Linked DNA regions of Homo sapiens: regions 1, 2, 3, 5 and 6 are each linked to region 4. Evidence: fine-mapped expression QTL. A gene starts in region 4. Each other region holds a variant in brackets. All regions are shown on one strand. Distances are from middle to middle.

The links. PIP is the estimated chance that this variant, and not a neighbour inherited with it, causes the effect.
Region 1: its variant is fine-mapped to the expression of PRKAG2 in monocytes after Pam3CSK4 (Quach 2016, PIP 0.95).
Region 2: its variant is fine-mapped to the expression of PRKAG2 in whole blood (TOPMed, PIP 0.92).
Region 3: its variant is fine-mapped to the expression of PRKAG2 in nasal epithelium (TOPMed, PIP 0.95).
Region 5: its variant is fine-mapped to the expression of PRKAG2 in whole blood (TOPMed, PIP above 0.99).
Region 6: its variant is fine-mapped to the expression of PRKAG2 in skeletal muscle (FUSION, PIP 0.95).

The regions. Positions count from the first base shown.
Region 1 is chr7:151,793,747-151,798,817 of GRCh38, reverse strand. The region is part of intron 1 of PRKAG2 (protein kinase AMP-activated non-catalytic subunit gamma 2); the gene reads left to right. Among named protein-coding and RNA genes, the nearest start is that of PRKAG2-AS2, 10 kb to the left of the region's middle. RefSeq lists enhancers at 1,705-2,286, 2,287-2,869, 3,130-3,269, 3,814-4,711. The variant A/T (reference allele first, on the strand shown) is at 2,160.
Region 2 is chr7:151,659,278-151,664,348 of GRCh38, reverse strand. All of the region lies in intron 4 of PRKAG2 (protein kinase AMP-activated non-catalytic subunit gamma 2), which reads left to right. Among named protein-coding and RNA genes, the nearest start is that of RHEB, 140 kb to the right of the region's middle. The variant G/A (reference allele first, on the strand shown) is at 3,011.
Region 3 is chr7:151,673,885-151,678,955 of GRCh38, reverse strand. PRKAG2 (protein kinase AMP-activated non-catalytic subunit gamma 2) reads left to right here. Exons shown (of 16, transcript NM_016203.4): 4 at 3,319-3,536. Among named protein-coding and RNA genes, the nearest start is that of PRKAG2-AS2, 130 kb to the left of the region's middle. The variant T/G (reference allele first, on the strand shown) is at 2,023.
Region 4 is chr7:151,874,933-151,880,003 of GRCh38, reverse strand. It overlaps PRKAG2 (protein kinase AMP-activated non-catalytic subunit gamma 2), which reads left to right and starts at 2,889. Exons shown (of 16, transcript NM_016203.4): 1 at 2,889-3,497. The coding sequence starts at 3,384. PRKAG2-AS1 (PRKAG2 antisense RNA 1) reads right to left here and starts at 2,962. Exons shown (of 3, transcript NR_038926.1): 1 at 2,864-2,962; 2 at 2,138-2,167; 3 at 781-1,442. RefSeq lists silencers at 2,395-2,824, 3,587-3,636, 3,697-3,836 and an enhancer at 4,027-4,146.
Region 5 is chr7:151,631,184-151,636,254 of GRCh38, reverse strand. It overlaps PRKAG2 (protein kinase AMP-activated non-catalytic subunit gamma 2), which reads left to right. Exons shown (of 16, transcript NM_016203.4): 5 at 4,117-4,186. Among named protein-coding and RNA genes, the nearest start is that of RHEB, 110 kb to the right of the region's middle. RefSeq lists an enhancer at 2,823-3,172 and silencers at 3,543-4,412, 4,563-4,662. The variant G/A (reference allele first, on the strand shown) is at 2,951.
Region 6 is chr7:151,717,959-151,723,029 of GRCh38, reverse strand. The region is part of intron 3 of PRKAG2 (protein kinase AMP-activated non-catalytic subunit gamma 2); the gene reads left to right. Among named protein-coding and RNA genes, the nearest start is that of PRKAG2-AS2, 86 kb to the left of the region's middle. RefSeq lists an enhancer at 1,640-2,161. The variant T/G (reference allele first, on the strand shown) is at 2,546.

The DNA.
Region 1 (5,071 bases), 81 kb after region 4:
AGTACGGAGAGGGGTCAGAGGGCTTCAGCCAGGAGAGGAGGACAGATGGTACCCCTTGCTCCACACTTCTGGTGACACCTCGGGGACAGAAGGTCAGCTCTTCTCTGTTCCCTGAAATCTACCTGCATGATTTCAAAGCTTATCTAATGCAGAATTTTTCAGACTTTTTCACCCACAACACAATAGGAAGTACATTTTATTCAGGCTGGGTACAGCGGCTCATGCCTGTAATCTCAACACTCTGGGAGGCCAAGGCAGGTATATCCCTTGAGCCCAGGAGTTCAAGACCAGCCTGGACAACATGGGAAAACGCCATCTCTACTAAAAATAGAAAAATTAGCCGGGCGTGGTGGCTCACACCTGTAATCCCAGCTACTTGGGAGACTGAGGCATGAGAATCGCTTGAACCCGGGAGGCGGAGGTTGAAGTGAGCCAAGATTGCGCTACTACACTCCAGCCTGGGCGACAGAGTGAGACTCCATCTCAAAAAACAAAAAACGAACAAACAAAAAAACAGGCCGGACACGGTAGCTCACACCTCTAATCACAACACTTTGGGAGGCCAAAGTAGGTGGATCATGAGGTCAGGAGTTTGAGACCAGCCTGGCCAACATGGTGAAACCCCATCTCTACTAAATATACAAAAATTAGCCAGGCGTGGTGGCGGGCGCCTGTAATCTCAGCTACTCAGAGGCTGAGGCAGGAGAATCACTTGAACCCAGGAGGCGGAGGTTGCAGTGAGCCGAGATTGTGCCATTGCATTCCAGCCTGGATGACAGAGCAAGACTCTGTCTCAGGGGAAAAAACAAACAAACAAACAAAGTACATTTTATTCTATGTGTGTGTGAATCATTGAGACACAGGCTTCATGCAACCATGAGATACATTCTTATTGTAATTCAGTTTTTGGTGGTTGTGCAATCCACTAAATTGATTTCATAATCCACTGACAAGTTGGGACTGTCAGTGTGAAGAGCCGTGGCCAGATGCTGCGGGAGTGGCCGGCTCACCCCGGGATGGAAGTGAGGAGACAAATGAAAGCTCCTCTATTCACTATGCTTGGCTTGGGAAGCCCTGGCTTGCTTTTTAAGTCCATGGTATTTCCTCCTTCCTCTGAACTCCCTGTACCTTTTGATCTATAATGTGCCTGGCACAGAGCAGGTGGGTGAAACAAGATGGAGTAGAAGGAGTCCTTGGGTACCCGTAGAAAGTGTTGGGGAAGAATCTTTTGATGTATGGCTCTGTAAATATGGACAGTTGAGATTCTGGAAGCACTGAGGTGGCAGCCTTTGCAGGCCTCAGCTCTGGGCCAAAGCCCAAAGCCACATCTTGGGTAGCTGTTTGGGAGCAGAAATGAGGTCTCTGAGCCCTCGTTCAGAGGTGTCCTCTCTCACACAAGGTCCTCTACGTAGAGGAGGGTGTGTCTCAGAGCCAGCCAGCAACTCGGTGACCTTACAAAAATGTCCCCAGGGTGCCCAATTTTATTGTAGTTCATGGTGTCCCTCCTGCAGTTTGTCTTCAAGCACTAACCAAAACCGCTGGGTGTGTACCCGGTGGGGAGCACCAGGCGGCGGTGGGGGGTGGGGGGGGTGGCAAGAAGCTGACTGTGGGGGAAGCGTCAGATCTGACCAGGGCCATTTGGGCCTCTGCAGCAGAGGTCAGGCCGGGGCCATCTCACTTTCACCTCGTGGCTGGTTTTTTCCTCTCTGAAGTCTGGGTGGCCGATGACTGGAGGGTGTGTCTGCAGCTGGCTGGCCGGGCCGGGTGTGGGGCCTCGGGGCCTTTCCCTTGAGTCGGTAGTGCCCACGGAGGGCTCTATGCTGGTATTGGCTGGTGGTTTGGCATTTTATTTGCGAGCCAATAAAACCTCCCCAGAACCCCAGAGCTGGCCTTTTCACACCCTGTCTTGGTAGAATCATAATGTCAGAGCTGAAGACAGTCCTAGAAATGAAGGGCTGTTCCCTCCGTACAGGGGCTGGAGGTGGCGCATCAGGATGTCATTCCCTTATCCCGAGGTCTTGGTGTTTACTGGCCCCCGGGCCGTCCTCAGTCATTTACGCCCCAGCTTATGACCACTCTCCCCGTGTCAGCTCTGCGAAGGGGAAGGACAGAGGCTCATGGAATCCAGCCCTGGGAGGAGCCGGTGACTCAGGGGTGAA[A/T]AAGACGCGGTCCTTGCCGAGCTCCAACTGGGTGTGGCAGGAGACAGGCCCTCAGTGACAGGACAGGGTGACAAGATGCCATGACAGACACTTGCACGACTGTTACCCAGCGTGCGAAGGCAAGAGGATTGCCCCACTCTGCTGCCAAGGCTCAGAGACGAGGCTAGGAGGTGATCGTGGTGCTTTTCTAAACCTGTGATTGCCCTTCACGTACTGTGAATGTTCCCTGACAGTCAAAGGAGGACATTTGGCCATTTCCTGTTGTTCTCTAAGCACTGCCAGGACAACGGCCCTTCACATCCGTCTTTGTCCTCTCGTCCAGCTGGGGCCTGTGGGTGTCTCACTGGGCCCTGGGCAAAGTGAGGGTTCCATAGTGTGGACAGAGAGCCACAGTGTGGGCGGAGAGCCCACCCGATGACTGAGCAGACCCATCCGTCTATGCAGCGAAGGCTGAGAGCTTCCAAACAGCGGCCTGCTTTTACCCTGGACTCTCCCCATGTCTGTCCCCACCAGCTCGGGTGAGGGGGCCTAGGGCTCTGTGTTAGGAGGGGTCTGCAGAGAAGGAGAACCAAGACTAGAGATCCAAGCATATAGATCTCCTATTTTTCTTAATATATGTATACTAAGAAAATATATTAAGTTAATATATTATGTGATTATATCTCCTTAATATACATATTTTTCTTAATATGTATATTGAGATATAATCACATAATATATTAACTCTATATAATGTATATAACATGATTACATATACATATTATCGTGATATATATATATATATATATATATATATATATATATATATATATGAGATTTGTTTGAAAGAATTGACTCATGCGTTGGTCGGAACTGGAAAGTCCCGAATCCACTGGGCAGACGGACTAGAAGCTCAGGCAGTCGATGCTGCAATCATGAAGCAGAATTTCCCCTTCCAGAACCCTCTGTTTTCCCTCTTCAGGCCTGCTGCGGATTGGGGGAGGCCCACCCACATCATTCAGCATGATCTGCTTCACTTCAAGTCACTGACTGTAGATGTCATCCACGTCTGCAAATACGCCCACGGCAGCCACCTGCTTGGTATTTGATTGAATCAGTGGGTGCTATGGCCTCGCCAGGCTGACACATCAAATTAACCGTTACTGACTCCACGATGGGATGTGGTCAGTGGAGCCCAGCGCTCCCTGTCCCATAACATCCCCTCCCCTGCCCCCTGGCTGGGGCCCGCAGTGCCACCTGTGAAGACCGCAGCTACTCCGGATGGAGGCGGCAACCTGCAGCCCAGGCCACACCCTTGGAAGGGAGCTGGGAGGCTGCCTGCTGCTGGTCCTCGAGGAGACGGCTGCACAGACCATGCAAATGCGCCCCCCAACCTGCATGTCCCGGGGCCTCCCAGGTACTTGCCTCCTTCCTCATGAACTGGGAGCTGACCCAGACTCCTGTAGCCTCCACCCAACCTGTCCCTCTAGGTGCTGCCCCTGCCCCCCACTCTCCCTCCTTCTGGGGGATCTCAGACAGGCTGGAAGAAGACAAGCATGTGTGATGAGCAGAGGCTGGACTCAACCTGGCCTGGGAGCAGCTGCCTGTAAGAGGCTGCCCTGGGGCCCTGAACTAGGAAGGGGCTCTCAGGAATCCCACAGCACAAGCCCCTGAGGTCAGGACGGTCAGGATGGCCACCCCCAGCTGGTCAGAAGAGGCACTGTTGGCCCCTGCAGAGCATCCTCCACCACAACGTGAGGAGGCCAGTGGGGTCCCTCCAAGCTTCCATGGAGCTCTGGTCAAGTAAAGGCTGCCCGGAGTGGGCAAGGAAAGGCTCGGCTGCCCTTTGCACGAGGACAGAGCCGGAGACTCTGGCAGCGGCCATGCTGTGATCCTCTTTAGAACTGCCGTGCACAAGTCATGAATCATCTTGGCTTTCACCTTGGGAACGGGATAAAGACAGCTCTCTAATTATAAGGGGGACAGCCAGTGTCTTTGCAGAAGCCTCTGAAACCCGATCTCAGGCCTTGGTTGAGTGTGAGCAACTGCCCTGGCTTCCGCGGGAGCCGCATGAGGGGCCTGGCTGCCCTGGTGATGATGCCTTTGTTGCTCCCCACAGCCTTCATCATCAGGCCCCAGTGTGCCCTCGGCCAGCGGCCCTCGCCATGCCCAGTGCCACGGGGGCTCACACCGCGGGAAGGGCCTTTGATGACGTCCTCTGGTCTCGTTTCCCACCAGCCCGTGATAAGAAGGATGATGGCCTCCTTTTACACACTGGAAAGTGGAGGTTCCTGGATTTTAAAGGGCGTGCTCCACATAAGACGTGAATGCAGAACTGCGGGGAGGGTCGAGGTCTCCTGGGCACTCCGGGCCAGGGATTCTGCAGCTACTTGGTTTTGAGCAAAAAGAGTTTCATGTCTGGTGCTGATATGGAGCTAGGGAAGCCCCGGGTGGCCTCGGGCCAGACGAGGAACTGGGAATACGGTGGAGCAGGGGACTTCCTCAAAGCCAGGGGAGGCTCAGGCTGCCAGGCCAGGGTCCTTGGCCTTGGGGGGCGGGGAAGGGGAGCCCCGAGGCGGTTGTGGGAACCAGGACCACCAGGTGAGGGAGCCAGGGAGGAAGGGTGGCCATAGGAGTGAAAAACAGTTGGATGTTTCTTTTGACATCAGGAAGTTGCTTAGGCTGTAGTGAGAAACTACGGTGTCCTCTGTGGAAAGTAAATGGCTCTGGAACTTCTCTGAGAGTGGAGCTTAGGCCTTCCCGGATTTGGCCACTGGCCCTCCCCTGCTGCCTGGTTCCAGTGATTCAATATTTGTTCCTTATTTTTCTGAGAGTGGTTATATAACATGAATGTTTTTCAAAGGCTCCAATTGACCTGGCTCTGGTCACCTCCTGCCGCCCATCAGTACCAAGAATTGCCCGTTTGGTGGTTT
Region 2 (5,071 bases), 220 kb after region 4:
GGCCTCTGTTAAATGGGAATATCGGATTTATCTCACAGGGTTGCTGTGAGGCTCAAATGAGATAAAATTGTGTAAAGTTACTCCCCCAAAGGCTCAATGGCTAGCAAACGCTAAAGCCAAGATTTGAACCAAGGCAGCTGGGCTCCAGAATCCGTGTTCTCAGCATGGTTGTCCGTCACCTCTGGAGAGATCCGAGATTCTCAGCTGATCCAAGGTTGACGCAGCATCTTAGCTCATATACCTGATTAGGGGTTTGGCACATGGTGTCTCATGGGTCAAGTCTGGCCCACCACCTGGTTTTGTGATTAAAGTTTTATTGGCACACAGCTACGTGCATTCATTTATTTATTGTCCTTGCCGTTTTCATGCTGCAACAGCAGAGTGAGTTGCTGCAACAGAGACTATATGGCTCACAAAGCCGAAATATTTCTATCTGGGCTTTTTTCAGAAAGTTTGCCAATCTGTGACTAATCTGTGCCAGAGCTTCCCTTTATACTGCTAGCCAGTTGCTTGTTGGAACATCCAATGCAAAGGGGCAGATTGAGTCTCATCCCCAGAAAGGCAAGGGACAAACAGTAGTGCTTTGCCTCACTAAAGACGTGGAGTGCATTCCACTGGAGAGGGCAGTGGAATTAGTTATTTGTCCTGCCCTTAAGGAGGATCAGACTGGCCACTAAGCTGGCAAAGTGGGCCAGACGTGGTGGCTTACGCCTGTAATCCCAGCGGTCTAGGAGGCCGAGGTGGGCAGATCACTTGAGCCCAGGAGTTCGAGACCAGCCTCAACACGGCAAAACCCCATCTCTCTTAAAAATACAAAAAATTAGCTGGGCTGGTGGTGCACGCCTGTAGTCCCAGCTACTTGGGAGGCTGAGGTGGGAGAATCATCTGAGCCTGGGAGGTCGAGGCTGCAGTGAGCCATGATTTTGCCTGGGCGAGAGGACTGAGACCCTGTTTGAAAAACAAAAACAAAAAGAAAATGTTGGCCAAGTGGTAAATAATCCAGCAGAGTTAGGACTTGAAGATTATACTCCTTGCCTTCAGAGCGTTATAGAATTACACACTCTGCTTTTGGGCTGATTGAGGAGATTTGGAGTAACATAAAGTGAAGGTGGAAGGGTCTTTGTTCTTCCCCTTAACCTCCTTGAGTAAGGAAGGGCTGCACATTTGAAGTGGCACAGACAAACAGCATAAACTTGCCCTTCCCTCCCTTGCCATGATTTCCAGAGGAGGGACTTGTTCAGATTTGTGTCGTTTTTTTGTTTTGTTTTGTTTTTTAAATTTTGGAAGAGACCAGCGTTTTGCCATGTTGGCCAGGCTGGTCTTGAACTCCTGACCTCAGGTGATCCACCCACCTCAGCCTCCCAAAGATTCCCAAAGTAATCCCAAATCCAAAGGGATTACAAGTGTGAGCCACTGTGCCAAGCCCAGACTTGTGTTTTATGTATTTGTTTGTTTTTAGAGATAGATTCTCCCTCTGTCACTCATGCTGGAGTGTGATCATAGCTCACTGCAGCCTCAAACTCCTGGGCTCAAGCTATCCTGAGTAGCCTCCTAAGTAGCTGGGATTACCAGCACACACCACCATGCCCGACTAATTTTTTTTCTGTTGTTGAAGAGATAGGTTCTCCCTGTGTTGCCCAGGCTGGTCTTGAACTTCTGGGCTCAAGCCATCCTCCTTCCTTGGCCTCCCAAAGTGCTGGGAGCCACCACGCCCAGCAACAGACTTGCATTTTATGGAATGATTACTCTAGTAACAGGCTAGAGGCTGGAATTTATGCGGAAAAGACTAAACCAGAAAACCAGTAAAGTGCTGCAGTAGCCCAGTGAGAGGTGACAAAAGGCTGAATTACAGCCACAGGAGTGGAGATTCAGAGGAAGGAATTCATTATAAAAGTGCAGCCTGGATATGTGGCGTGTGGGAAGAGGACTCTAGGGGGACTCTCCAGTTTCTGGCATGAAAGGAAGGATGACAGTGTCATTAAATTAGAAAAACACTGGACGGAGAAGTAGAGCTGGGATGAAACCTCAGTTCCATCTGGGGCACATTTTCTTTCATTCCTTTGGGACATCAAATAGAAATGGCACGGACGTGGATTTAGAAGTCTGATGTGGAGAAGCAGAGGTTAGGAAAATGATTCTCTTTGTCCATTTTATTTCCCATGCCTTAAGTCAACCAAATCAAGACTCTGAACACTTTCTACCTATGTAACAGCCGGTGCGGGGAAGAAAGCAAATGTCGTTTAATTCTAATAAGGGATACTTCTTTACCAATAGAGTTGTGTGAAAATGCATTTGGGGGGCTGAACATTAAATGGTGGAAAAATTACTGTACCTATTTATGCATCCTAGACAGGCTTGTCTTGATTTGCATTTAGATGAGAATTCCTTCAGCTCAGAACCGGGACTGTCCCCTAATTCATAAGCACTTAGAAAAGCATTAACTTTAGCTGGCGAGGTATCCTTGGTACAACTGTGACACAAAACCTAATACCAGTGTTCCCTTAATGACTCAGGAGAAAGTAGCCATTGAAATGGTGGAAAAGTTTAGAACAAGCTTCCTTTGCCATCTCTTTGAGAAGGAACGCATACCCTGTTAATCAATGACCGCCCAGCCTCTCTCACCGTGCTTGAGTAAACCTGTTTCGAAGGGTTGTGTATTTTTTCCACTCTTTTGGAGGCTTCGTGCAGGACTCTAAAGCATTATTATTCTAAGTCCTGAGTAAGAATGTCAGCTGCTCATCGTAGCGTGATTACAGACAGAGGTATATTTTATTTTTTTAAAAAATGGAAATTGAAACAGGTGGTTCAATGAAAAGCTTTCTAAGGAACTACACAGATGAAATTCTAATACGATTTCTACAGCTCTGCCCGTGATTTCCTCTTCATGTGCTGAATCAAAAGCCCTTTGGGAGGCCAAGGTGGGGGGTTGGATCATATGAGGTCAGGAGTTCAAGACCAGCCTGACCAATATGGTGAAATCCCGTCTCTACCAAAAACATAAAAATTAGCC[G/A]GGTGCGGTGGCTTGTGCCTGTAGTCCCAGCTATTCAGGAGGCTGAGGCAGGAGAATTGCTTGAGGCGGAAGTTGCAGTGAGCCAAGATTGCACCACTGCACTCCAGCCTGGGTGACAGAGCAAGACTCCGTCTCAGAAAAACAAAAACAAAAACAAAAAAAGACAGTGAAAGGCCCATGGCTAGTTCTTTCACGAATTGGTCAGGCTATTCAATTATGGTGGTTCGGTCTGATTAAGCCATTACTTACTTTGCATTTGATTTTTCAAAACACATACATCTGGAGAAGTATTTGGTTCTCTCTTTTAAAAACAACATTCCTGTAAGATGAAGAAGTTCTGGAGATTGGTTACACCACAGTGTGAGCATGCTTAATGCTACTGACTGTCTACTGAAAAATGGTTAAGATGGCAAACTATGCTATGTGTATTACACCACAACTCAAACCTTTTAAAAATGACATTCCTCTGATTATAAAAGGAAAAACATAAAAAAGAAAATTAAAACTTCCTGGAATCCCGCCTCTTTGAGACAAATGGATAAATTCCGGTGTCACATTTTCGTCTAACTTTTGTTGTTCCTTTATACACAAATACAGAAATGGACAGATAACAGATGTAGACCCTGCTAGAGACTGTTCAGCAACTTAGCTTTTCACTTAATAGTATAATCAGGTCCCTGTCTTCAATTTACATGGTTTCATTGTTGGAGGAATGTCATCTTTTCAAGTCTTATTTTCATAAAATCTAGTAGACACACAGTATAAGTATTGCTTTATACAATTCAAATTATAAAGCAAACTACTGGTTCTAATATAGTAAACAACGAATGTTACATATAGCCTGGAGAGCATTTATTATATACCAAAAGCCATTGGATAGAGGTTGTATTGCTATTTGGATACAAATCGTGCAATTTCAGTAGAATGGCTCACTATGAATCAGATTCTTTTAAGAAACTAAGTATACAGTACTTTAGTACCAGGGAGACCATAAACGTTTCTGAGTCATTTGCCTGCTCAAGACTCAGCTACGGGTTTGAGAAGCTGGGAGATTGAAAGAAAGGAGATTTTCCTTCTTAAGATCTGTCCACGTTCCTGGACTTGAATCTGCCCTTTCACTTTTATTATGTCTAACAATTAAAGATTGATTTGGGGAATCTCTGAATACCAGTCTATGTGTTCACTACTCAGATCTAATAATACTAGCATTGGGATGTGGTATTAATATGGTTTATTCTTTTCCGGAATGTAGGAATGAATTGTGGAAATAACTTTTTTTGGAGACAGGGTCTCACTCTGTCACCCAGGCTGGAGTACAGTGGCATGATCATAGCTCACTGTAACCTCGAACTCCCAGCCTCAAGCAGTCCTCCCACCTCGGCCTCCCGAGTAGCTGGGACTACAGGCATGCACTACCACGCCTGGCAGAGAAATAATTTCGCATGAGCCGTGAGTGATGTGTTCAGACACAGCTAGTGGGAAAATATATACTTAATCCATTCCGAATTTTTTCTAGCGGAGCCTCCAAGAGGCTATCTATAGCCCTCCATGCTGAAATAATCAAAGACATTATCTTCAAACTAAAGCCTTTGTCTTAGCTTAAGAATGTGTGATCCTTTCTGTTCCCAAGACACACGTCTATAGATGGGGCTGTGTTTACACTCTGCCTGCCTACTTATTCAATCTTACAAATGGGCAATTAAAGGAAAATTCTGTTTCCCACCAGGCATTAACTGTATATTGCATTTAGTCTACACATTAGTTTCACACGCATCTGTCTGCCCGGTCACCATGTGTGAACCCCTGTGTTAAGATATCTGCGTGGTGTGAGAAGAAAAGCCTCAAGGTCAACACAAATACTGATCCATGCCTTTTTATAAGGTGGTAAAGCAAATACAAAGGGCTTTTAGAACCAGTAGACTCAGTGCATCGTCAGCATTTACCCTGTTAACCTGACTTAAATGGGAGTGGTGGACATGCCATGGACTCCCCTGAACAAAGCAAAGTCAATTTTCTATTTTTCTGAGAAACAGAAGCAGGAGGCAAAAAGAGCAGTAGAGC
Region 3 (5,071 bases), 200 kb after region 4:
GTCTCACTCTGTCACCCAGGCTGGAATGGAATGCAGTGGCACAATCTCAGCTCACTGCAACCTCCGCCTCTTGGGTTCAAGCGATTCTCCTGCCTCAGCCTCTGGAGTGGCTGGGACTACAGGCGCGCGCCACTACGCCTAGCTAATATTTGTATTTTTAGTAGAGATGGGGTTTTGCCATGTTGGCCAGTCTGGTCTTGAACTCCTAACCTCAGGTGGTCCACCCACTTCAGCCTCCTGAAATGCTGAGATTATAGGCATGAGCCACTGCACCTGGCCTCTATTTTTCAAGAGTTTGGGACTTTGTTGTGAGGGCCTTTTACATTTTAAGTTTCGGGTCCTAACCCTCTCCTCCTGCTTCCACCCAGAGCTGCCTCCCAAGTGCCAGCCCGGGGCTTCCAGAGGGCTTTCCACTCACACTGCTCAGTCTCCTGAAGGGACTCCCTGGAAAAGGGGGCTCCTTCTCTAATAGGTGACTTCCTAAACCTCCCCCGGACACACAAAACAAAACATGCGCCCCACTCTCCACAGAGAGGAACAGATTCACCCTGACCTTGAGCCGGTCCTCTCACTGTTCTTTCTGTTCCTTGCCTGGTGGCAGCAGGCATTTGCCAGACCCCTTGGCTCAGGACAGCACTGGGTGCCCTGGGGCCCAGAGGGAGTGGCAGGACCCCCGTCCCCAAGACAGACGGTAGATCTTGGTGGGGAGAGGGGACTTACATACTTTTATGTTTGGTTTGAACGTTAAACAGTTTGTCATTAAGTGGTAACATACAGGACAGTGAAAAGGCTTTATGAGTTTGGTGACACGAGGGACAGGAGGACAGGTCCTTCCCCATGAGGATGGAGCAGGAGGGACACGGGTGGTTCTGGGAGCTGCGAGGAGGAGGAACCCAGCAGAGATGCCTGGGGAGAGTGAACCAGGCCTGTGGCTCTGTAGGTGACGCAGCCTTGTCCAGACCAGAAACAGTGACTGGTGGCTCTAGGACCTGATAAAAGGAAAACGTCTGCCGAATTATGTTTAAAGGAGTTTGACTGAGCAATGAACGATTCGCAAATCGAGCAGCCTTCTGAGCCAGAGTAGACTCCGAGAGCCCAGCTCTCAGCCATGTGGTGGAAGAAGATTGATGGACAGAAAAAGGAAAGTGACCACAGAAAGCGGAAGTAAGGCACAGAAACACCTGGATTGGTTACAGCTCAGCATTTGTCTTACTTGAACACGGTTGGAACAGTTGGCTACATGTGATTGCCAAAACTCTGGCTGGCACGAATGTAGGCTATGGTCTGTTACAGTTCACAATGTACAGAAAACCCTTTAGGCCAAACTTAAAATATTTAAGGAGGCAGCTCTAGGCTACATGTAATTTAACAGGGCATGTTCACTGACATCTTTGGTTTGACTTGCATAATTCAAATTTTATTTTAAAATTTTATTTTTCTACCTGTAAGATGTAAGATATCAGAGGGTGAGTGTGATGGCTCATGCCTGCAATCCCAGCACTTTGGGAGGCCGGGGCAGGCAGATCACTTGAGGTCAGGAGTTCGAAAGCAGCTTGCCCAACATGGTGAAACCCCATGTCTACTAAAAATATTTTTAAAAGATTAGCCAGGCCTGGTGGCAGGTGCCTGTAATCCCAGCTACTCAGGATGCTAAGGCAGGAGAATCGCTTGAACCCGGGAGGCAGAGGTTGCAGTGAGCTGAGATCACACCACAGCACTGCAGCCTGGGCGACAAGAGTGAAAACTCTGTCTCAAAAAAAAAAGAAAAAGAGATTTGAGATATCAGACCCAAAGCCAGATTCTGCTTCTCTTAGAACACAATCCATGCATTGCATCAGTCTCCTCAGGCTGTTATAACAAAGTGCCACCGACTGAGTGGCTTAAAACAACTAAAATTTAGCCCTGTCCTGAAGGCCAGAAGTTCAAAATCGAGGTGTTGGCAGCGCCACGCTCTCTCTGAAACCTGTAGGGGAGGATTCCTCTTTGCCTCGCCCTGGCTTCTGGGTTTGCCAGCAATCCCCA[T/G]CGCGCCTTGGCTGCAGCTGCATTGCTCCGATCGCTGCCTCTGCCAGCACGAGGCCTTCCCTCTGGGTATCCGTTTCTGTGTCTCTTTTCCTCTTCTTATAAGGACACCAGTCACATTGCATTAGGGCCCACCCTAGTCCAGCAAAATCTCATCTAGACTTGGTTGATCTGAAAAGACCCTGTTTCCAAATAAGGTCACATTCACAGGTCACATCCTACCTGTGCACTGTGCCATGATTTATTTAACCTCTTCTTGACGAGCCTCTGCATCTCCAGCTCTGCTTTCAAAAGCACCATGGTAATGAATTAGGTGTACACTCGCCACTTAAAAATTACATAAATAAGTCTATGGAAGAAATAGAGTTGTTTCTGTTAGTTAGAAATAAGTCAAAGTGGAGAACCTTTAACTCCCAGAAGATTCATGTCTCCAGTCTTCCTACAATCCTCCACTAACACCGTTGCCCCTCCCATTATTTGCCCCCTCCCTTTTCCTGACCATCTAAATCTGTTTCACTTTTTAGACCCCATTCCAGTCCCACCCTTTCCCTGAAGTCTCCTTGGGTATTTATCTTCGCAGTGAAGTCTTGCTACTGGGAACTTACAGTGGTGATGTTCATGTTGCACGTTTTGGTAGGAATAACACATCCATCCCCTCCCCTCCCCTCCCCTCCCGTCCCCTCCCCCTCCCCCTCCTCAGATACATGGTCCCATGGCTTCTGCAGCATTGGCCTGCATCTCTGCTGCACATTTTCCGAACTTCCCCATGTTTTACCTCAATAAATAAGGCACCACTGCGTTTGCTCTTGGCGCCATGCTGGGGAAAGAAGGAGAGGAGATCAAATGATATTTGGCTGAATGGAGGAAAATAGCCTCTGGAGGGTGTGTGTAAAAGTTCACCAGATAACTCGGGACCGTGTGAGCACCCCGTTCCCAATGAGGGGATGCTGCCCACAACCGAGCGTGGATAGTGAGGCGTTTCTGGAAACAGCTGATTCTAAGAGACTAGAAATTGGTTTTTAAAGCTTTTCCTCAACATTCAGAATAATTTGGCTTCTTGCCATTTGAGGTTTTGGGCACCAGGAATGGTGAGAGCCTCCCTCTGCCATGGCGGGACCTCTGACCACCTCCAATGTCCCTTCCTGGAGGCCGGACCTCTGACTGCCCCCGACGTCCCTTCCTGGAGGCCGGACCTCTGACCTCTCCCCATCTCCCTTCCTGGAGACCAGACCTCTGACCACCCCCGACGTCCCTTCCTGGAAGCCGGACCTCTGACCGTCCTTGGTGTTTCTTCTGCAGCCTCCGGCCTCTCCTCCTCTCCGTCAACACCCACCCAAGTGACCAAGCAGCACACGTTTCCCCTGGAATCCTATAAGCACGAGCCTGAACGGTTAGAGAATCGCATCTATGCCTCGTCTTCCCCCCCGGACACAGGGCAGAGGTTCTGCCCGTCTTCCTTCCAGAGCCCGACCAGGCCTCCACTGGCATCACCGACACACTATGCTCCCTCCAAAGCCGTAAGTCTGGGCCCTTCTGTGGGTGGGGCTGCCGGGTGGCAGAGGGAGGGCAGAGCAGTTATTGCCCCAAGCTGAGCAGTCTATCTGCAGCCGAGGCTGAGGTCGTGTGCTCCCGACATCTTCAGGATATTGTACCATAAATCACAGGCTGAGGGAGAAATGGTGAGGGCACAATAGCAAATGGAAATACACAAAAAATAGCTGGGTGCGGTGGCTCACACCTGTAGTCCCAGCACTTTGGGAGGCCAAGATAGGCAGATCACTTGAGGCCAGGAGTTCGAGACCAGCCTGGCCAACATGGCAAAACCCTGTCTCTACCAAAACTGCAAAAATTAGCTGGGTGTGGTGGCGTGCACCTGTATCCCAACTACTCGGGAGGCTGAGGCATAAGAATTGCTTAAACCTAGATGGCAGACACTGCAGTGAGCTGAGATCATGACACCGCACTCCAGCCCCTATGTAACAGAGCAGACTCTGTCTGAAAAAAAAAAGAAAAAAAGAAACAAAATGAAAAATGGTAACATCTGGGACATGACCAGGAGGAGGTTTTTTTCCCCTCAGCTTCTTAAAAATCATTCATTGAAAGCTTTATTTGAATTTACCTTGCTTGGGATACTACAGTATTCATAAAATGTCATAGGTAAAGCAAAAAAAAAAAGTAAAACAGAAGTGTTATTCTAGAGGTTTAAGATTTTGAGTCTGATGACATCATCAGACTTAGGATGCCCTCTTTGGAAGGGGAGCATTTCATAGAGGAGTGGGATGGAGCGACAGACGTGTGCAGCCTCCAGCACTTCCTGAGACCGAGGCAGCGAATCTCCGTGGCTTCACTAAGCACTTAAGCACTCTCTGTTTCAACACAGTGGGCCCTACTGAGACCCCAGCTGTCACTGCTGGTTTAATTACCGCAGGTACCCAGTATTATTCCCGTGCCCAGCGACACTGTGAGAGCCACATCCCTGGGTCTACCTGTATGGCTGGAACCACTCCATTCAGTTGTCACATTAGTGTCGCATGTCACTGGGGCATGACATAGTGCCACACACTGGATGGCTTAAAACAATAGAAATGTACTGTCTCACTGTTCTGGAGGCCAAAAGTCCAAAGTCAAGGTGTTGGCAGGGCTACACTCTCTTCAAAGCCTCTAGGGAGAGTTCTTCCTTGCCTTCTCCAGCTTCAGCTTGTGACAGTGTTACTCCAGTCTCTGTCCCGTTCTCACATAGCCATCTTCCCTTTGTCTTTCTTTGCATCCCAATTTCCTTCTTATAAGAATACAAGGCCAGGTGCGGTGGCTCATGCCTGTAAACCCAGCACTTTGGAAGGCCAAGGTGGGTGGATCACTTGAGGCCAGGAGTTCCAGACCAGCCTGGCCAGCATGGTGAAACCCTGTCTTTACTAAAAATACAAAAAATTATCTTGGCGTGGTGGTGGGCACCTGTAATCCCAACTAGTCAGGAGACTGAGGCATGAGAACCGTGGGAACCCAGAGGCAGAGGTTGCAGTGAGCCGAGATTGCACCACTGCACTCCGGCCTG
Region 4 (5,071 bases):
CAATCCCCAAGGCACCCCACCCCCATCCCACTTCGCACAGCAGTTGCAAGTCCAGGCATCCGGAGCTTCTGACCGACAGGCTGGGCTCTCAATTGGGGTTCCCACAACCCCCTCTCAGGTTCATTAATTTGCTAGAGTGGAACACAGAACTCAGGGAAATGTACATTTACTGGTTTATTATAACGCATATTACCAAGAACACAGATGATGGGATGTACAGGGAGAACAGGCACGGAGTTTCCATGCCCTTCCCAGGCACCCCGTCTTCCAGCAGCCTCCACATGTCCAGGGATCCAGAAGCCCCCAAACCCAGACCTCTTGGGCTTCTTAAGGAGACTTCATTGGACAGACACGATTGACGACCATGCAGAAATGTGATCGAACAAAAAGGTATGATCCAATAGTGACTGAGTAAGTGTGGACACCCAAACAAGTCCTGCCTATTCCGACCGTTATTGGCCTTTCCGTGCAGGATTTCTTCCTCTCGGGAATGGGGCAGGACCCCTTCTGAATAGAGGGTCTTAAGTCCCACAATCAGAAAGATGAGGGAGGATTAGAGTCCTGCCTTGGGCTGGTGAGGTGGTGAAGGAGGGCAGGGGAAGTTCAGAGGAGATTGTTTCCTGGGGTGTCTGAGGCCTAAAGCGCCCCAACATTATAACAAGAGACTGTGATGAGGGCGACGAGAGTGCTAAGCCAGGAACCCTGGACAAAACCCAGAATTTATACCTCGTCATATCACAAGGACCAAAAAAATTAAAAATTAAAAAAAGGCTCTTAAAATGCAGGCAATACAGTAAAATGTTTTAATGTAGGAAGCACTAAAGTCTTTGTTCCAACAAAATTAACTCAGAGAACAAATTATTTTACATATGTATACAGATCAATCAACAAAAGTACACATTATAACAATTGCTAAACACTGTCCATAAAGAAAACATTTCAAATGAGAAGCGCCATCGCGGTTTTCTCCTTCTGGGTCACCCAGTGGAATGAGGGCCCTCGCCAGGGGCTCTTCCCAGACGTCTCTTCACACCAACCGGCTTCCTTCTGATGGCCCCATTTTCCTTTAAAACCAGTTCTCATCAAATAGGGTGTTTTATGCACCCTGGCAAATGATCATTTTGACAAGGATTAAAACTGTAAGCTAAACAGATGACACAAATGACAATTGGGAATAATTTTTAGTGGGGACAGAGGCTAAATACTACCCCCTCCCCTTTTCTACTTCTAACCAATATCTTGAGCATTCAGTGGGACAATACAGTCTTGCTGGGTCTCTTGAAATCCTCTAGCAAGAAGCCAGCCAGGAGAAGACCCAGAAGTCCCACACCTGTGGGGCCAGGATGGCTGCTTGGTTGCTAAACCCAGACAGGGTCCTTCCAGTGCATCTGCCCCTGTCAGGCTCTGTCTCGAGACTGGGGATCTTCCAGGCTGGCTTCATTCTGGACCAGAGAGCAGAGGAGAAGGAGAAAGAATATAAACCCACCCCTATGAGCCAGGGAACCACCCAAGCTGTAAGGATTTTGTGCAAGCTGCTGGAACTCGGGTTGGAAAAGCCACCCGGCAAGCAGCTGAAAGGAAGGATGCTTCTCCCTGCGTGGGCGCACGCCTGCTTCCTAAGAGATGATCCTTTGGGTGGGCTGATCATGCCTCCTCCTCTGGGGAGGGAGTCCTGCGAAAGCACGCACCTCAAAAGGAGTAAAGGCCCTATGGTGTCCCCAAAGCGACCCCTGTCGCGTTCTTTCTGCGGGTGGCCTCCCTGCATTACTGATTACTCGGAGCGGCTGAGCTGACGTCAGCATTCTGGGAGCGCCAATGACCTTTGGGGTCATCACATCCTCAGAAACTAGAGCAGGAGGGGAAGCGACCCCCAAGCCAGCACTCCCCCTACTTTCCACCAGGGAGCCGAGGTCGCGCCATCCTGGGGCGCATCTGGGGGTGGGGGACACACCAGCCCCCTCCCCCAACCCCTCTAGGGCCCTCGGCAGCAGGCGGTACTGGATGCCCACCCGGGGCTCTAAAGGACCTGGGCCGCACCGGGAACCCTCGCCCGGGTCTTCGAGCCCTCCCCTTCTCCCAATTCTTTCCGCAGTCTCAGGAGCCCCACGTTTCCCGCGGCGTGGGGACACGCACTTACCGCGGATCCACTGCGCAAACCTTGATGAACCTGAAAAAAGCAGGGTGGGGTGGGGTGGGGTGAGGGTGGGGGTGGCTAGACCCTGCTCGCACCCAGCGCCACGCACCGCTCTCTGGGCGGGTTCGAGTGCGCGCGCCGGGCGGGGCGGGACCCGGGGGCTGCGGTGTTTCGAGAAGCACGTGCTACTTCGCGCGCAGCGCCCCCGGAGACTGTGGGCTTCCTCGCTGCCTGGTCTACGGCAGGGCGGGCGCGGGGGCGTGTTTCAAAGGGTAGGGCACACAGTGAGACGCCGGGAGGCGGGATGGATCCGAAACCAGCTCGCAGCGAGTCCCAAGCGGCTGCGGCCGCCGCAGGGGTCTGGGCGCGGCGACGAGGGCGGCGTGGGGCGACGGGGAGCGGGACGGTGGCGCTGCACGCCGCGCACTTCCTGTTCAACACGCGCCGCCTCCCACCACCCGCGCTCCCCGAGCTTGCGTCGGTGCCAGGCCCGGCCCCTCACTGTCCCCTTGCGGTCCCCTGGGGCCGCGGCGCGGCGGGGGGCGAGGAGCGGGCGCCCTGCCCTTCTTGGCCCGCTGGACTCCGGGCGCCCCCTCCGGCGCGCAGGGCCGCGAGCGCCGCCGCCAGAACTTCTGCCAGCGGCCGCCCGTAGCCTAATTGCGCAGAGGGCTCGCCTTGCACCTCCTCTTCCCCCGCCGCCCTCCCTCTCGCCCAGAAAGGAGGACGGACCCAGCTGCAGGCTCCGAGCTGGTTTATTCTGCGGCCGAGGATTACATTTATGCACGAACGGGCTTACTGGTTCCAGATTCCCCACTTGGGCACAGGCATAGGAGGCTTGTTTTCCAAATTGCTGGTTTTAATTGCACCTGCCTTTCAGATTACCTCTGGGAATCTGTGGGAGGAGCCGAGAGGGTGGAAAATGTTTCTTAGCTTTGCAAAAGGAAGAAAACTTTGTCACCCAGCGGGAGACCTCAGCCACGAGTAACCCGGGGAGACACCAGAACCGGGACGGGCTTTGACTGATTTGCCTACGAGGGTTCCGTAGGAAAGGACGCTTGAATTCGGCGCTTCGGCGGCGGCGGCGGCCGCGCGAGTTCCCTGCTCACCCTCCCTCTCCGCGGAAGTCCCCACGAGGTGGCTTCAGGGTGTAACAGAGCGCGCGGCTCCAGTCCGAAGGCAGCGGCCGGGGGAGGGAAGGAGGGGACCGAACCCCCGAGGAGTTTCGCAGAATCAACTTCTGGTTAGAGTTATGGGAAGCGCGGTTATGGACACCAAGAAGAAAAAAGATGTTTCCAGCCCCGGCGGGAGCGGCGGCAAGAAAAATGCCAGCCAGAAGAGGCGTTCGCTGCGCGTGCACATTCCGGTGAGTCCCAGCACTCGGTCCCCTGCTCCCCAGCCCTCCTGTCGCTCCCGTCCCCGGCGCCGAAGCGGTTAACGCTGGACGCCCCGCGCGCGCCGTGCGTGCCCCTCCTGTCACTTCGGGCGGCTTGGGGAAAGGGTAGAGGGACAGGGCCCGAGCTGGGCTGGCGGAGCCGGGGCTCAATCTCTCTCTCTGCCCGCGTGCAGCCAGGGCTGGGGCTCCGCCTGGGGCGGGGGCTGGGCGGCTGCAGACTAGAGGGGGCGCCGGGCGCGGCGGGTGGGCGGCTGGGCGTAGCCCGGTATCCAGCCGGGTGCGGGTGCGGGGGGCGGTGCGTTGTGTTGTTTTGCTGAAAAGGGACGGTGTGGACTGCGCTCCGGGGAGGTGGAGCCCGCGCTCGGCTGCTGGAGACGGAGAGAGGGGAGGGGAGGGAGGAGAGGGGAGGGGCGGTGGGTGGGGAAAGCAGCGGGGCGGGGGTTGGGGGGAGCTGTGTAGCTGCGTCTTCCAATGCACCCCCTCCGCTCCAGTTTCTCTCCGGGCGTTTCTGGGCCTGGAGCGGGGGTCTCCTCTGCCGCCGTTCCCTTCCCCCGCCCCGGGAGTGTACTTTGGGTCTCTGTGGTATTTGGGGGCTCGGAGCTCCCTAATCCGTGCAGGCTGCATTGAACTTCAGCCCCGTCCGCGCCAGCCGCCCGGGAGGACATTGGCGACTCGGATCTGCCTGCGGCTTCACTTTGTCCAGCCAGAGGGGCGGCGGGCCGCGTAGTGGTTCTCTTTTCGGAAGGCGCCCCGGTAGCCCGCGGCCACTGTTCCTCGCCTCCACGTAGCGGGGTAGGGCGGTGGGAGGTGTGGCCCACTGGGTCACACCCTCCGCCTCAGCCAACCAAGTAAATGTTTGTGTACACACACACACACACACACACACACACACACACACACACACACACACACACCAGAGTGCTCCGTAGAGAAAGTTATTTTGCTCTCCCGGGGCAGGGTGGGAGTGCGCAGTGAATGGGCTGTCCGGACCCCTCATTAAAGCTAATCCTTCCCGACAGGGTCAGGCGCAGCTGGCATGGCCGAGGCAGGCCACTCACTTCCCACTGTGAATCCCAGGGCGCACTGCCCCGTGTTTGCTGAGCCACCCTTCTTTTAGACGCCCCGCTAAGGTCCTCCTGTGTAAACTCCGGCCCACACGTGCCTAACGCTTGGGTGAAGAGGGTGGAGTCCAGGGGCGGGTCTCCAGACACCTGATGCCAAGTAGCCCCACAGGGGCCCTGGGCCAGCCCTCCCTGGCTGGAAAGCTCTGGGGCTGGAAACTTGGACCCCTGGCTGCTGTGTGGCCCCCACGGTGGTGACTCGATTATGCAGGAATAAGTGTTCTATTTGAAAATGAAACATTCTTGTTTACATCTCTCATGTAAGACATTTAAAACCATGTTCGTGAGTTAAAAGTTAGATGTTGCTGCCACAAACCTCTTAAACAGTGATCACTTGAGCTAACCGTGTAACTACTGTTTCTCCCATTTGTCAAATGCAGGAAATAATACCCATTTTTCCTGCTTTATACGGATATTGAAATA
Region 5 (5,071 bases), 240 kb after region 4:
GATAGTTGCACAATTCTGAATATTCCAAAAATCACTGGGCTGCACACTTTAAATGGGTGAGTTATTTTATGGTATGTGAATTATATTTCAGTAAAGATTTTTTTGGCTGGGCGCGGTGGCTCATGCCTGTAATCCCAGCACTTTGGGAGTCTGAGGCGGGTGGATCACGAGGTCAGGAGATCGAGACCATCTTGGCTAACACGGTGAAACCCAGTCTCTACTAAAAAAAATACAAAAAATTAGCCTGTAGTCCTAGCTACTCCGGAGGCTAAGGCAGGAGAATGGCGTGAACCCGGGAGGTGGAGCTGGCAGTGAGCTGAGATGGCACCACTGCACTCCAGCCTGGGGGACAAAGCGAGACTCCGTCTCAAAAAAAAAAAAAAAAAAATTTATTGTCATTTCCTCCACAGAATTAAATCAGCTTGGCCTGACTCATAGGGAAAAATACAGGGTGATATCACAAGCAGGATATTGACATTGATACAGTCAAGATGTAGAACAGTTCGGTCACCACAAGGATCTCTTACATTATCCTCTTATAGCCATAGGCACCTCTGGCCCCCTACCCCAGCCCCTGATCCCCGGCATCCACTAATCTGTTCTCCATTTCGACCATTTTATTTCAAGACTATAATATAAATGGAATCATACAGTATATGACGTTTTAGGACTGGCTTTTTCCCCCTCAGCATAATTCCCTGGAGATCTATCCAAGTTGTTGTATGTGTCAGTAGTTCCTTCCTTTTTCTTGCTGAGTAGTATTTTACGGTATAGATGGACCTACCACAGCCCGCTTCACCATTCATCCATTGAACGACATCTGTTATTTCGTTTGCACTGTTGCAAAAAAGCTGCTATGAATATTCATGTACAAGTTTTTGTGTAAATGTAAGTTTTCATTTCCCTGGGATAAATGCCCAAGAGTGTAACTGATGTGTTACATGGTAGTTGCATGTTTAGTTTTATAAAAAACTGCCAAATTGTTTTTAAGAGTGGTGGTTCCTGACCAGGCACAGTGGCTCACGCCTGTAATCCCAGCACTTTGGGAGGCCAAGGCAGGCAGATCACCTGAGGTCGGGAGTTCAAGACCAGCCTGACCAATATGGTGAAACCTCATCTCTACTAAAAATACAAAAATTAGCTGACCTGTGGTAGCATGTGCCTGTAATCCTAGCTACTCAGGAGGCTGAGACAGGAAAATTGCCTGAACCTGGGAGGTAGAGGTTGCAGTGAGTTGAGATAGGTCCACTGCGCTCCAGCCTGGGCCACAGAGGGAGACCCTGTCTCAAAAAAAAAAGAAAAAAAAAAAAAAAAACAGTGGTTCCATTTTGCATTCCCACCAGCAGTGTAGAAGTAATCCTGTCTGTCTCTCTACATCCTTACCAGCATTTGATGTTGTTACTATTGTGATTTTAGCCATTTTAACAGTTGTGTAGTAGTATCTCATTGTGGTTTTAATTCGCATTTATATAATGGCTAATGACTTTGAACATCTTTTCATGCACTAATTTGCCATCTGTATATCTTTCTTGGTGAAACAGCTCTGTGTCATTTGCCTATGTTCTAATTGGATTATTTTCTCCATTTTCTGTTTAATATTGGTAGTGTTTATGTATTCCAGACATTTTTATTTTATTTTATTTTTGCTATTCCTTGGAGAGCAGGGCTAACCCTATAGGCAGTGTGCTAGTAATTTGTTGGCTATGTGATTTGCAAGTATTTTCTCCTACTGTGTAGCTTTTCTTTTCATCCTCTTAACAGGGTCTTTCGCAGAGCAAAAATTCTTAATTTTAATGAGGTCCATTTATGTTTTTCCTTTTATGGACTGTGTTTTTGGTGTCAAGTCTAACTTTTGCCTTGCCCCAGTTCCCAAATATTTTCTCCAAAAAGTTTCATAGTTTTAAGTTCACGATCCAATGTGAGCTAATTTTTGTGTAAAACGCAAGGCTTAGGTTGGGGTTTGTTTTTGTCTTTTTACCTTTTGATATCCAATTACTCCAGTTCTATTGCTTTTACACCTCCATCAAAAATTGGTTTGCCATGTTTGCATGGGTCTATTTCTGGGTTTTCTATTTATTTCTATTGATTATTATATCCATTCTTCTGCCAATACCATTGTCTTGATTGCTGTATCTATATAGTTTGCTTTAATATTAAGCGACTTCAAGATTAAAGAATTCTACTGTAGTCCCAGCTACTTGGGAGGCTGAGGCAGGAGAATGGCGTGAACCCAGGAAGCAGAGCTTGCAGTGAGCCGAGGTTGCGCCACTGCACTCCAGCCTGGGTGACAGAGCGAGACTCCGTCTCAAAAAAATAATAAATAAATAAATAGAATTCTAGAGCTTGCACCTTTCCATATAAATTTTAGAATAAGCTTATTTATGTCTTTAAAAAAAACCCTAATTTGGTAGCAATTGCATTAAACCAAAAGATTAATCTGGGGGAGAATTGTCATTTTTACTATGTTGGGGCTTCCAGCTCAGGACTGTCTCTCCATTTATTAGCTCGTCTTTCATCTACAGTTTGTGATTTTCAGCATACAGCTACTATACATGGTTTCTTGAGTTTATGCCTAAGTATTAATTTTCTTTGAAGTGATTGTATTAAGTGATATTGTTTTATATATTTTTCCATGTGTTCATTGTTAGTTTATAGAAATGTGATTGATTTTTGTGTGTTGATCTTGTATGCTATGACCTTACCAAACTCACTAATTCCAGGTGAGTTTTTTCTTTCTTTTGTAGATTCTTTGATATTTTGTATGTAGATAACATGTTATCTACACAGGTGTTTTTCTTCCTTTCCAATCTGTATGCGTTTTCTTTCCTTTTCTTGCCTTATTGCAGGGCCTAGTACTTCTAGAACCATGTTGAATAGGATTAGTGAGAGCAGACACCCTGGCCTGGTTTCTGAACTTCATAGGGAAAACAGTCTTTCACTATGAAGTATG[G/A]TATCTGCTGTAGCTTTTTACCATGAAACATCTTAGTTTTGTTTTCTTTTTCTCTCCCCACCCCTTTTCTTTTTTTAAGAGGTTTAAGACTTAGGGATTGGCGCAAGTAAGATGACAAAGCTAAACGAGAGGCATTTTCAGGACTTCCTCTTTCAGGCCCGGCTTGCAAGAGCGCTAGGGCCAAGCTCCTTTCAGCCCTAATCGGTACTGGAGCTAATCGCATTCGCGGCGCCCGTGCACTCTGCAGGGATGGGCCGTGGGGCCAGGGACCTCAGTCCCCTCTCGGCCTGTCCTGCCCTTCCAGGAGGCTAGCGGCTGCTGGCCGCGCAGCCTGCCAACCTGAGTTGGCCATAGTAGAGTCTCAGATACCCAGCTCCTGAGCGGCCAGGGCCAGATTCAGGGTGTGTACGTTTTTGGCAGCGGCTCCCCAACCGAGAAGACACTCGGCTGCGAAGAGAGGACGCGAATTAAGAGTTCCATGCTGGAAAAAAAAAAATGGATAGCGACAAAGTGCATCTACAATACGTGTAGCCCACGGAACGATTTTTGTTAAGGGGGCCGAGGATGGGCAGTTACATCTAAAATTTGGAAAGGGAAGAGGAAAGCGAGAAAGGATCCCCTAGCTGGCGCCCCGGGGCGTTCTGCAGCCTCCAGCCCCTCTCCCCCTCCCCGCGCCGCGGAGCCCACACCTGCGCAGGTGGAGCCTGCCGAGCGCGGCCGCCGGTGCTGGGAAGGTGAGCGGCGCCGGGGGGCGGAGTGGGGGCGGGCCGCGGGCCTCTCCCAATGGCGGCACGGCGGGGAGGACGCGGGCCACGGCCGGAGGGGGGCGCCCCGGGCCCAGGCGCTGCCGCCCTCGAGCTCCCGGGTCCCTTCCCACGCTTCCTCCCGGGCGGGCCGTACCAAGGCGCGGGGGGGAGCGGCGCGTCCCACTCGCGGAGGGGCACGCGGGCCGCGGCCGCGCCACCTGCGGCGGCGGCGGCGGCCTCGGGCGGGTGGGGGCAGCGCTCCCGCTCCGCCCCCGGCCCCCGCTGCCCGCGTCCCCTGCCAGGCCCCTCCTCCCGGCGGCGCGGCAGAGCCAGGCCCCAGCGCTCGGCCGGCCGCGAGCCCGCCGGCCGGGGACGAGCGTCGCAGCTCATGCTGATCGCTGTCCTCCTCCTCCCCCTCAGGCGGCGCTGGCGGCGGCCCTGGGACCCGCGGAAGCCGGCATGCTGGAGAAGCTGGAGTTCGAGGACGAAGGTGAGTGCGCCCCGCCCGCTGCCGGCCCGGCGCTCCCACGGCCCGGCCGCCCGAGGACCGGGACCCGCGGGGACCCCGCGCCCCATCTCCGGCGCTGCCCCACGGCGAGCTGCGTCCTGCGGAAGCCCAGGGGCCGGGGCGGGAACCGGGGCGGGGATGCGGGCGCCGGCGAGCTCGGGCTGCGGGGTACCGGGCGTCCGCGGAGGGGACGCGAGCCAGGCTCCCAGAGCGCAGCCCTGAGCCCGGCATCCACACGGACGGGCGGCCCTTTTGTCCTTACTCGCCGAACTCGAATTACAGCAAGGTGTCAGGGAGCGCTAATTGTTTGTGCTTGTCACCATGCACTCGGAGGCAACCCCGAATCATACCCACAGTCCAGACCCTTTAATCATAGACTGGTGCCCTTATCTGCGCCTGTGAAGATATGACCGGTAGGGTGTGTCTTCTTTTTTAATGGGGAAAGTTAAATAGGAAAACCTGAAGAGGTTATTGAATCGGTGTTGAGTTCAGGCGACCCTCTCACTCCGTCATTTCTGTCGCCTCTCCTCTCACTTGGTTGTTTTTTTTCCCTCTCCTGTCTTCTTCTTGTATCTTACAGGTAAATAACTTGGATCTTATTTGGAGGCTGTTAACATTTGAAAGGCATGAGCTCGTTCTTTGGCAAAATTAATATTTAAAATGGAATGTGACGAGCTTTCACCAGGATCTTATTTTGAAGCTGTTAACATTTGAACGGGATGAGCTTGCTCTTACGCAAAATTAATATGTAAAATGAAATGTGATGAGCTCAGAGTCGGGAAAGAACTTTATATAAGATGCTTGACAATTCGAGGACTTGAAAAGGCGTTCACACTGTCTTGTGTGCTTCCATTATTTATTTAGCAA
Region 6 (5,071 bases), 160 kb after region 4:
TGGAGGGGAGGAGTGGGCAGGCTGCAGGGGATGTCTTTCCTGTCTGCAGCCTTCCGTTTTCCACTTTTTGGGAGGCAGAGACCTAAGAAAAGAGGAGCCAAGGATGTGGTTGTGGGGCTGGGGTGCTCAGAAATGGGGAGCAGCTGGAGGATTAAAAGGCCTCTGGGGCAGGGAAGAATGTCCTTTAATGGGGACCTGCCGGGCCTGTGCCTATCTAATCAGTTTTGCTGTGTGTTAGTAGCACATCCATAATAAGAAGTGCCTGTGACAGCCGGGACTGGGAATCGGTGTTGAGCTGTTGGCTGATGGTGGGGAGGCGGCGGTGCACACTCTCGGCTTCCCTTGCACACGAACCTCGCAGAGCATGGGGCTGCATGTCCGTGTGTCCCCACGGGAGTCTCATGGCATTTCTGGAGAATAGACAGGATCCTACCCCCGCCACTCACCTGCTAAAGTCTAGCATTCCTTTATCAAAGCCGAGCCCTTCTTTCCTCAGTGAGAGATGAGCTCCACGAGGAGACCCCTGGGGAGGGAGCTGGGGTAAGTGATGGTAGTCCTTTCGCTGGAAGTTTTGATGCCAAGAGTAGGAGAGGAAAGGATGCCAATGGCAAGACATCCTTGGCTGAAAGATGGCTGCTTTCACCCATCCTAATGTTTGTAAACTTATTTACCCTTTTCCTAAGGTGAGGTTGGCAGGCAGTGCCATGTCAAGCAGGTAACGAACTAACGCTCCCCTGAACATAGCTCGTCAGGAGGAAGGGTGCTAGGAAAACCAGACTGCAATGGGCTGAACCCCTTTTATAAGATAGCAAAGTCTTGGTCACATCTGAGTCTACACCTGCATTGTAAAGAATGTCTCTGGGGGTAAATGAGAGAGCCAACTAATGAGAAATACGGGTTACAGGCTCACTGTGCTGTGGGCACTAGGAGCTATGCCAGGAGGATTCTACAACATCCATCATATTCACATGCAGGAAACAATAGCCAGCTCACCCACAAGACAGAATGCCACAGCCACGCTTGAGGAATTCTGCAAGGTGATTGTGTGGGAAGGAGTAGTCAGGGTGGGCTGCATGGAGGAGGTGGCCTTGAACTGGGCCTCGAGGGAGTAGCAGGGTTGGGATAGGCAGATAAGGGGAAAGAATCTAGGACAAGGAGTATGTGTAGTGTTTGTACAGAGTCACCATGGGAACTAAGGGACCTGGGTCAGAGAGGAATGGTAAGGCCAGATAACGTCTATGAAAGCAAACATAATTGGCTGGTACATGCTTGATGGGACGTTGGCCTGACACTGTGAATATCCGAGGCCAAAACATCTGTCTTCTCCAGACAAACTAAATCTCTACTCAGATTTTAGAGGGGCCTACCCTGCTGCTCCCTGGCCAACAGGGTAGAATGTCCTTGACTGCCCCAGGGGGTCCTAGCATATGTCCCCCACTGTCACGGGCAGGCCTGGAGGGGGACATTAGGTGACCATGGGGCAGAGGGGTGGCACGCCTCCTGTGGGAGGTGGCTGGTCACCCTCGGTTCTGCATGAGAGGCCTTGGAGGGAGGACGTGCTCTGGGGAGCCAGGCCCTCAGGCACCCCAGCTGGGCCCCATAGCGCTGTGCTGGCCTCGGCCCCGGCCCTGGCCCCGGCCCTGGCCCTGGCCCTGTCTTCAGCCCTTTCCTGTTGGCATTAGAGCTCCAGTTGTAGGCAGAAGGCAGCTCCAGAGTGACCGAGGAGATGGCAGAGGAAGCAGGAAGGGGCATTTTCGAGATGCAGAGAGGGGACAGGACCCCCGCTTCAGGATGCAGGATGGGTGGCTGCAGGGATGGGACCCCAGAAAAGCCTGAGTGCTGGGCGGCTGCAGGGTTCTGGCTCCCATGCCTGGGTAGGTGGCCAGGCTGCCCCATCCAGCCCTCTGACATCCTCTATCCTTCTGTCCCCCTCTGCCCTCTGTGTCCCCTCCATCCCCTCTGCCCCCTTCATGCCCCTCCACCCTGGTCTGTCCTTTTTCACCCCCCTCTGTTCTTCATTCTCCTCCATTCCCTCCATCCCCTCTGCCTGCTCCATCTCCTTCTGTTCCTTCTGCCCTTATTACCCCGCTCCATCCCTCTCCATCCCCCTCCATTCCCCCCACCACTACCCTCTGTCCCCAACCATCCCCTCTGACCCTCTCCCTCCCGTTCCATTCTCCTCCATGCCCTTCTGTCCCCTCTATCCCCTCCAAACCCTCCATTGCCCTCTCTCCCCTCAATCCCCTGTCCCCCTCCATCCCTTTCCATCCCTCTGCCCCCTTCATCCCCCTCCATCCCCTCCATTCTCTCTGTCCTCCTTTATCCCCCTCTGTCCCCATCCATCCCCTCCATCCCCCTCCATCCCCTCCATTCTCTCCTCCTTCATCCCCCTCTGTCCCCCTCTGCCATTTCTGCTCATCTGGACGGGCTCTGGAGCCCTGCATGCATTTTCTAGAGCTTGACGGTGCTTTGTTTTCAAAACAGAGGCTGTCAGTGCTTGACTTCAGGGTGTCAAGGTCTGTTCTATCTATTTTAAGAAAATTGT[T/G]TTCCACAAATAGCAGTAAGAACACAGTCTGTGTTACACCCACAGAGATTTAATTGCCTATAGACCGACCTCCTGAGCTAGCAGCCTCCACCCTTTCTGGAAAGGGCCATGGTCTTGCTGTATTAGGTAGACTCTCCTATCTAGGGTGCTTTTGGGGCTGGAAGTAACAGAAACTCAAACGCGAACTGGCTTGAACAACAATGCTTGTCCCAGACCAGCAAGTCTGTGTTCTTTCTCTCTGTGTCCATCTGGGCTTCCACTACCTTTCCTTGTGGTCACAAACGGCTGTCTGCAGCCACTGGAGGAGTTTGTAGGTTTATGATCTGGAGGGAGAGAAAGAAGAAAGGGCATTTCCCCCTACTGTGGAATGAGGGCCCTTCCCTGATTCTGATTGGACCATCTTGGAAGGGCTCGCCCCTGGGCCAGTGCTAGTGGCCAGGCCTCACCCTGACCTAAGCACATCCCCTGGGGGTGCTCACAGACCTGGAGGAGCCCAGGACTGGGCCAGAGCTGCCCCTGGTCTGGACCTGGGCAGAGCAAGCACAGCCAATTGGGAGAGTTCCATGGGAAGGTGCAGATTGAATGTGGCGGCCTCAGTGAAATAACAGAACTACCTCAGTAGGCACAGGGGCCAGGGAAGGCGTTACTTGGAGCCCCAACTTACAGGCTGCCTGGCAAACTCAGGGGGAGGAGGGGCAGGCTCCAGTTTCTTGTTGAGAACAGATCAGGGTGCCAGGCCCACATAGGCTCTGGGAAGCCAGGTGGGAGTGACAGTGCCCATCGCAAGACAGTGGTGCTGTGGGCGGGACCCAGGCAGGAATGCAGGTCCCTTGAGAGGCAGGTGCCAGGACAGGACTCAACACACACCAGACTCACTGGGGGAACTGCCCGGGAAGGATGAGGGTAGGAGGCAGAAGACAGGGGGCATCTTCTTTCTGACCCCTGCGGCCACGGTGGCAGGGAAGATTGGACAGCGAGAGTCTCAGGGTGACCCAGCACCCGGCGCTTAGGCATTGGCTGGGAGCAGCCCAGGGCAGGGGCTGAGGGTGCTGGCGGGTTTGGGGTGGGTTGGGAGCATGGTCTCTGTGTGAAGGGGGAAGCGGAAGTTATAGCCCAGCTCCCCCAGCAGGAGGCCTGAGCGGTGGGTCTCTGTGACTACCTCCTTCATAAAGTCCCACTTGCCCAAGAACTTGTATGATAAGTTGGACCAGGGCTGAGCGTGCCGGGGCCGGGAAGCATGTTGCAGAGACCGGGAGTGGGGCAGGACCTCTCTCCCTTCTGCCATGGGGCTTTCTGTCTGCACTTCCACTGCTTCCACCGCTGAGCTGGTTGCAAGATACATCTCGTCTCCCGGAGCAACGCTCGGGGAACAGGGTGGCACACGTCTCCTTCAGTCCCCTCCATTTCCCTGAGTTCGGGGCCTTGTACTTATCAGGGGCTTAATGAATGTTTGTGGGTGGGTTGGAAAGTCTGAGCACAGAGAGAACAGGAATCATCTGAGTCTAAGAAACTACTTGGCAAGATGCAGGCTGGCACCCTCAGGAACACAGGGAAACAGGCAGCCCTTTAGGTCTCAGAGGCCGATGCTGAAGAGAGATGAAGCCAGTTCTTGAACAGAAGGGCCAGGGGAGGTGGGCAGACCTGCCTTCTGGTTTGGTGGACAAGAATGAGAGAATCCCATTGAGCCGTCATCTTTGGACTCCATGGAAGGGGTCCCTCCAGTCAGCTACGGGCCCAGAGATTCATTCTGGCTGGTTGTAGTGGATCCCAAAAATGTATTAAAAGCAGTGAATAGCTCACAGAGTCCCCAGGATGCAAAAAAAACCTGGGTTTTTTTGTTTGTTTTGTTTTTGGGTTTTTTTTTTTTTTTTTGCATCCTGGGGACTTCATGAGCTACTCAGCACTTTTACTGGGGACTTTGGTGGGTTTCCGAGAGGAGCCCACCATGACTTACAGAGCGGGGACACGGAGGCCCACGTGGCACTGGGCACAGCCACCATGACCTGCATGCAGCTGGAGGACTCGTGCCGTGCTGTGGACCAGATCGTGTCCCCCGAATTCATACGTTGAAGCCCTGACCCTCGATGTGGCTTATTTGGAGATAGGGCTTTGAGGAGGTAATTAAGGGTAAATAAAGTCATAAGGGTGGGGCTGTAAGCTGATAGGACTGTGGCCTTACAAGAAGAGGAAGAGCTCTACCCCCCCCTCCACCCACCACCATGGGAAGGCGGCTGTCTGCAAGCCAGGAAGAGGGTCCTCACCAGAAACCAACAGGGCTGGCACCGTGACCTTGGGCTTTCCAGCCCCCAGAACCGTAAGAAAATCAACTTCTGTTACGTAAGCCACCCCATCTATGTGCTCTGTTCTGCCAGCCCAAGATGACTAAGATAGTGTCTGCTCTGGAAGGCAGGACCTCCTGCCTGGCATCTGCTTCCATGTAGCAGAAGCTGAGTCTGGCCCAGGACGACCCTCACATCAGAGCCCCTTCCCCCCACTCCCAAGGTCAGGCATAGAGGAGGTGTAAAA